Homo sapiens: one gene and its partner. The protein of the gene in region 1 purifies or fractionates together with the protein of each later gene. This does not show direct contact. Each region holds a gene or a part of one and is shown in the gene's direction. Other genes may lie near its edges.

Evidence for each region. The genes of interacting proteins can lie anywhere in the genome.
Region 2: the proteins of RTN4 (region 1) and TMT1B purify together in Homo sapiens (affinity purification with mass spectrometry; 3 studies listed by BioGRID and IntAct, with this or other methods). This does not show direct contact.

The regions. Positions count from the first base shown.
Region 1 is NC_000002.12:55,043,952-55,047,451, reverse strand, and holds part of RTN4 (reticulon-4), read left to right. Parts: intron 1-125; exon of another isoform or gene 126-636; intron 637-3,500. UniProt on the Homo sapiens protein: Required to induce the formation and stabilization of endoplasmic reticulum (ER) tubules. They regulate membrane morphogenesis in the ER by promoting tubular ER production.
Region 2 is NC_000012.12:55,680,474-55,684,535, forward strand, and holds the start of TMT1B (thiol S-methyltransferase TMT1B precursor), read left to right. Parts: upstream 1-1,262; 5' UTR 1,263-1,281; coding exon 1,282-1,779; intron 1,780-3,339; coding exon 3,340-3,576; 3' UTR 3,577-4,062. UniProt on the Homo sapiens protein: Thiol S-methyltransferase that catalyzes the transfer of a methyl group from S-adenosyl-L-methionine to alkyl and phenolic thiol-containing acceptor substrates.

The DNA.
Region 1 (3,500 bases):
TAGAAGATGAGGAGTAACTCAATCTTTTCCTTTTTCTTTATGAAAAAGACATACTTGAGGGAAACTGAGGTAAGAGAAAAATATGAAATATATTTTTAAACAGGAATTTTTTTTTTTTTTTTTTGAGATAGTCTCCCCCTTGTCACCAGGCTGGAGTGCAATGACGCAATCTTGGCTCACTGCAACCTCCGCCTCCCAGGTTCAAGTGATTCTCCTGCCTCAGCCTCCCGAGTAGCTGGGATTACAGGCGCCTGCCACCACGCCTGGCTAATTTTTGTATTTTTAGTAGAGACGGGATTTTACCATGTTGGCCAGGCTGGTGGTCTTGAACTCCTGACCTCCAGTGATCCACCCACCTTGGCCTCCCAAAGTGTTGGGATTACAGGCATGAGCCACTGCGCCTGGCCACAGGAAGTTTAATGATTGACAAAAGCATACTAATCTTGTATTGGTATGGGAACAAAGAAAATAGTTCTGTCTTTGAACATTAGGGATTCAGGGGGTGACAGCACTCTCTTGGAATCTTGTGTGTTGGAATGCTGAGGTTGGAAGGCAATGGGGAAAGAATATTGCCTGTTCTACAGAGTTCCCTAATTCCATATTGATGATACCTATTGGGAAACTTTAGTTTTTTTAGTAAGTGTAAGAACATTGTGATTATGGTTGTGGATAGTTAACCATTTTCAATGTGTCTGGATTTCTTAATGCATTCAAGAGTTTGTTCATTAATTCAACCCATTATTGATTACCTACCAAGAGACAGGATCTATTCTAAGCTTTGAGGGTATAGCAATAAGCAAGACACATGCTCCCCCTTGGGAGAGTACAGATAATAAGCACATAAATAAAGAACCCAGAATAGTGGTGTTATGAGGAAAATAAACAGGATAATGGCATAGAGAATGATGGGGATTTATGGGGGCTTTTTTAGGTTAGGTGACACTAAGACAGGCTTAGAAGGTGAGATTTGAGCTGCAGAGAGAAAACATTTCCAAGCAACTTCAGGGCAAAACCCTGAGGCAGGAATGAGCTCTTTGTGTCTGAGAATCTAGTGTAAGACTAGTGAGAAAAACTAGTGGGAGAGTGAAGAGGTGGCCTTACCCACCCAGATCATTGGGGGTCTCTAACAGGCAATGGTAAAAATGTTTAGCTTTTTAAAAAAATAAAAATATGCTTATTAAATAATTATATTGTGATTTTGGAACTAAAATAAGTTTGGAAGATTCAGGGCTACTGAGAGGACTGATGTGAGACAAAGGTGAGAAATGTGCAGAGCAGGGTTAGAAGCATAGACTAGCCTGCCTGGAAGAGAGGGTTTCTAGATCACTGACACTTGTCTGTTTAACATTGCTGTTTACGTTATTTATGAGTAAGCCCTGATTTTCATCTGTTAATAAGTTGTAATTTTACTGTTTGCTGTTGTGCCCAGAGCATCTCCATCGCAATGCAGTAACTGAAGTGAGACTAAAACCTCTCACTTGAGGGCCATTTTTCATGGGAAAATACTTGGCTTAGTGGTTGGTTAAGTTAGGCTTTGAGGATATGCGCAGAAAACTCTGGCTAGAAATCGATTTGAGAGCAGTGCAAACATAATTAAGGGTGACTTCGAACTGGTCTCTGGACATGTTCTAAACCAAGGTTAATTAAGACCGAAAATATGTAGATCTGGATTCTGAAAGATACTGAATGCCAAATTAAGGAATTTGGATTTTATCATTCCACTTTAATCCATGCTCTGCTATCCAGTTGCCCTTGCTTTTGGTAATTTATATTATGAAACCAAAATTGTTTTTTTTAATTGTTGTTTCTAAAGTTATTGTTTTTCACCCCTTCTCGAATTAGAGCTTTTGGCTTTGGGAAGACAGCCATTGAAGGTTATTTGAACTGAGGCAAGGCACCGTGAAAGCAGTATTAGAAAATTGGTGACAATATTCAAGATAGGTGGGAAGGAAAAGCAGATGAATTATTTAGAAAGCTATTACAGTAGTTCTGAGAAAGATGAGTAGGGCCTGAACTATTTCATTATTTGTTCATTCAGTGAAAATGGAATAGAAGGGAGGAATATAAGAGTATAAGAAGCACGCTTTCTTTAATTGGCTGTGAATCTGTTTTTATAGTTAGTTTACGAAGAGGCTGTATGAAAGACGAATTGATAGGACTTGGAAACCATGAATGTAAAGACAAAGAAAAGAATATTAGTGCTTATTAAATCAGTTTCAGAGACTGCCAAAATTTAATTGCCATGAAAATTTGTATAAAATTGAATATTGCTCATAAATACAGATTATGGGTTGGGGCTTAAAAATTACTAGTTTTTACTATCATGAAGCCATTTATTATATGATCATTTTTATTGGCGTAGTAGCATGTATTAGAAATTTTAAGATTTTGAGTGACATATGGTTTAAATATTAGGTATCAGTTCTTAATATAAAGTCCAAGTTCCCAGGAAGTGGATGCTTCTAAACACAAGAAAGTCATGCCCTGTCCATTCCCCACTTTCATTTTTGTGATTCTGAATAATTTCTGGTTAAGCCATTTCTTATTTTTAAAAGTTGGGAATAAGTAGTATACTCCTCATGGATATGGTGAATTATGTTTCAGATTGGTTCCTGGGCAACTGAGTGTCAAATTTGTGGTCTTTTTTTTTTTTTTTTTTTTTTTTTAGTGATTTGCAAACTCTCTCAAATCCTTTTTAAAATGAAGTGATGGGTATATGTGGAACCACTGATAAATAACTGCATGGAATAGTGTTTAGAAAACATGCTATTTTAGTGCTATATTATTGTAAACTTAAAGGATTTGCCATGTTATAAAAACATTTCTGAAAAGGAGCATGTTACCTATTGTCCATTAATTGGCTTTGTTTTATGTGTAGTTATTTTCTTTTTAAAAATCTAAAAACCAAAAAACAATGGTCTCACTTTTGTCCAGGCTGGTCTCAAACTTGGGGCCTGAAGCAATCCTCCTGCCTGGACCTCCCAAAGTGCTGGGATTACAGGCATGAGCCACCATGCCTGGCAAGTTTTTTTGTTTGTTTGTTTGTTTGTTTGTTTCTTTTGAGACAGAGTCTTACTCTGTCGCTCAGGCTGGAGTGCAGTGGCATGATTATGGCTCACTATACCCTTGACCTCCTGGGCTTAAGCAGTCCTCCCACTTCAGCCCCCCAGGTAGCTGAGACTACAGGTGCACACCACCATGCTGGCTATTTTTAAAATTTTTTAAAAAAACTTTTATATTTATGTATTTATATTTTGGAGACAGGGTCTTGCTCTTTCACCCAGGCTAAAGTATAGTGGTGCAGTCTTGGCTCACTGCAGCCTCATCTTCTGGGCTCAAGTGATCCTGCCACCTCAGCCTCCCAACTAGCTGGGACCACAGGCACGTACCACCACGCCCGGCTAATTTTTGTGTTTTTCGTGCAGATAGGGTTTCGCCATGTTGCCCAGGCTGGGCTCAAATTCCTGAGGTCAAGCAGTCTTCTCGAAGTGCTGGGTTTA
Region 2 (4,062 bases), on another chromosome or scaffold:
GTGTACAATATACTACTATTTGTAAAAGAAAAGGGAATATGTATATGTATATATGTACATGGATCTAAACACGTGGTGTGTGTGTTCCCTGCTCGTTCACAGGTCATCTCTGGAAGGATTCACAAGAAATTGGCAATATGGCATTTAGTGCCTCCAGAGAGGAGATCTGAGTGGTTGGGTCACAGGAGTAGAAGAGAGAATTTTCCCTGTAATCTCTTTAGTATCTTTTTAATTTTGTACTAAGTGAATGTACTGCCTCTTCCAAAAAAAGTTGTTTAATAATGTTTTGTAAAAAGAATTCTTCTCAGCCAGGCGCAGTGGCTCCCAACTGTAATCCCAGCACTTTGGGAAGTCGAGGTGGGTGGATCACCTGAGCCCAGGAGTTCAAGACCAACCTGGGCAACAGGGTGAAACCCTGTCTCTACAAATTACAGAAAAAAAAAAATTGCTGGGCATGGTGGTATGCACTTGTAGTCCCAGAAAATCAGGAGGCTGGTGTAAGAGGATCACTTGAGCCTAGGGACATTGAGGTTGCAGTGAGCCCAGACTGCTGCCACTGCACCCCAGCCTGGGCAGCAGAGACCCTGTCTCAAAAAAAGGAAAGAAGGAAAGAAGGGAGGAAGGGAGGGAGGGAGGGAAGGATCTCTAAAAAGTGGCTATTCTCTGACCTCACTTCCCCCTATTTGTCCAACTTACCCCATTCCCCACAGAACTAAACTTCTCACCCTTTCCAGGAGAGGGCATGCTGTCTCTGTCCTGTACACCTACTTTTTCCTCTGCCAAGAGCACCCTTCCCTTCCTATGGCCCCTCTGAAGTGCCTGACCTGAGGACGAAATGAGGCCAGGATATGTCCCATGAGTCAACTCTGTCCCCAGCATTCACCACTACCAACCCACCCCCAACGCCCTGCCAGCCCCCGACACTCCCCCGCCATGAGTCTGTCATCTGAAACATATCCCCTTACCCCTTCCCACTCCCTCTGAGATGACTCAGCAGCCCCTGCCCCCCTTCAGCTGGGCACAGTGCCCCAGAACTCAGGAACATGGGTACCACCTGTCCCTCCGCCCACATAAAAGTCATTGAAGAGCTTGTGGGGCTGTGGGACCTGCGCCCTCTGGAGGAATTCCATACACCCACTCAACTCTGGCAAATAGGAAATTGTCAAGTAGGAGACAAGGAGCAAAGTCCTATCACAGCGGGAGGGGACGCCAGCGCCTGCAGAGGCTGAGCAGGGAAAAAGCCAGTGCCCCAGCGGAAGCACAGCTCAGAGCTGGTCTGCCATGGACATCCTGGTCCCACTCCTGCAGCTGCTGGTGCTGCTTCTTACCCTGCCCCTGCACCTCATGGCTCTGCTGGGCTGCTGGCAGCCCCTGTGCAAAAGCTACTTCCCCTACCTGATGGCCGTGCTGACTCCCAAGAGCAACCGCAAGATGGAGAGCAAGAAACGGGAGCTCTTCAGCCAGATAAAGGGGCTTACAGGAGCCTCCGGGAAAGTGGCCCTACTGGAGCTGGGCTGCGGAACCGGAGCCAACTTTCAGTTCTACCCACCGGGCTGCAGGGTCACCTGCCTAGACCCAAATCCCCACTTTGAGAAGTTCCTGACAAAGAGCATGGCTGAGAACAGGCACCTCCAATATGAGCGGTTTGTGGTGGCTCCTGGAGAGGACATGAGACAGCTGGCTGATGGCTCCATGGATGTGGTGGTCTGCACTCTGGTGCTGTGCTCTGTGCAGAGCCCAAGGAAGGTCCTGCAGGAGGTCCGGAGAGTACTGAGACCGGTAAGCAGGGTGGGAAGGGGATGGGTGTGGGGCAGGCAAACGCAGCATCAGCCGCCCCAGGGTTCGGCCCCCAGAATGGGGCGTCTGAGGTAGTAAGTAGCACATTAGACACCCCATCCACCTCTACCTGCTGGTGAATAGGAGACATGACCAGTGCCATGACGGGGCACAATTGGGTGCTGTGGAAGCAACAGGAGGATCACCTACCACCATGGGACAGGGAGGGGAGTGGGGAGGACACCTAAGGAACTGAGGTTTAAATCGAGATCTGTGCTTGGGAGGCTGAAGCAGAAGGATGACTTGAGCCCAGGAGTTCAAGACCAGCCAAGGCAACATAGTGAGATGCCGTCTCTACAAAAAAAAAAAAAAAAAAAAATACAAAAGCTAGCCAGGCGTGGTGGCACATGCCTATAGTCCTAGCTACTCAGGAAGCTGAGGTGGGAGGATCACTTGAGCCCGAGTTCAAAGTTACAGTGAACTATGATCGCACCACTGCACTCCAGCCTGGGCCACAGAGTGAGACCCTGTATCAAAAAAAATAAATAAATAAATAAAAAGAGAGAGAGAGAGAGAGATCTGAGGGATTAAGCAGAGTGTGGACGGGGTGGGGAAAATAAAAGAGTGTTCTAGGTAAAGATAGTAGGGGAAGTAGAGTAGAATCCATCAGACTGTGGAGAGAACGTTCAGAATAGTTTCCAGGTTTCTAGCATGAGCAACTGAGGGGAGAGCTGATGAAAAGTGCCATTTGCTGAGATGGAAGAAAGCTGTTTTGGACTTACTAGGTTTGAGATCACCTAGGGAGAGTATAGTGAGGCGAGGAGCTTGAGGAACCCCAGCTTCAGTCAAGAGTTGGGCCTGAGGTTTCCCTGGGATGTTCACAGCGATGTCCAGGAAGCAGCTTGTGCATGCATCTGGGTTTTGTGAGAGAGGTTGTGCGTGTATCTCAGAATACAATAAGCCCAGCTGGGCGAGGTGGCTCACGCCTGTAATCCAGCACTTTGGGAGGCAAGGCAGGTGGATCTCTTGAGGCCAGGAGTTTGAAACCAGACTGGCCAACATGGTGAAACCCTGTCTCTACTGAAAAATACAAAAAGTAGCCGGGCGTGGTGGCTCATGCCTGTAATCCCAGCTACTTGGGAGGCTGAGGCAGGAGAATCGCTTGAACCTGAGAGGTGGAGGTTGCAGTGCGCCGAGATCACGCCATTGCACTCCAGCCTGAGCAACAGACTGAGACTCTGTCTCAAAAAATAATAATAATAATAATAATACAATGAGCCCTCCACTCCTGTTTCTCAGTTTCCCCTTCTGCATGCCCTCGGTTATTCTGGTCAGGCTTTAAAGATCTCCCACCAGCCACTCCTTTCAGTTATGAGGTTCTTCACATGCACTTTGAAGGCGGTAGCAGGGGATGCAGAAAAGGTCAGGGGCACGACAGTTTGCTCCATGAACTCTCAGACCAGCAGCTCCCATTTCACCAAGAAGTTTGACTGTCTTGATCAGCGCGATAGGGAGCAGGGTCAGAATGGAGCCAAGTGACACTAACTCTCTCATCCCTCCCAGGGAGGTGTGCTCTTTTTCTGGGAGCATGTGGCAGAACCATATGGAAGCTGGGCCTTCATGTGGCAGCAAGTTTTCGAGCCCACCTGGAAACACATTGGGGATGGCTGCTGCCTCACCAGAGAGACCTGGAAGGATCTTGAGAACGCCCAGTTCTCCGAAATCCAAATGGAACGACAGCCCCCTCCCTTGAAGTGGCTACCTGTTGGGCCCCACATCATGGGAAAGGCTGTCAAATAATCTTTCCCAAGCTCCAAGGCACTCATTTGCTCCTTCCCCAGCCTCCAATTAGAACAAGCCACCCACCAGCCTATCTATCTTCCACTGAGAGGGACCTAGCAGAATGAGAGAAGACATTCATGTACCACCTACTAGTCCCTCTCTCCCCAACCTCTGCCAGGGCAATCTCTAACTTCAATCCCGCCTTCGACAGTGAAAAAGCTCTACTTCTACGCTGACCCAGGGAGGAAACACTAGGACCCTGTTGTATCCTCAACTGCAAGTTTCTGGACTAGTCTCCCAACGTTTGCCTCCCAATGTTGTCCCTTTCCTTCGTTCCCATGGTAAAGCTCCTCTCGCTTTCCTCCTGAGGCTACACCCATGCGTCTCTAGGAACTGGTCACAAAAGTCATGGTGCCTGCATCCCTGCCAAGCCCCCCTGACCCTCTCTCCCCACTACCACCTTCTTCCTGAGCTGGGGGCACCAGGGAGAATCAGAGATGCTGG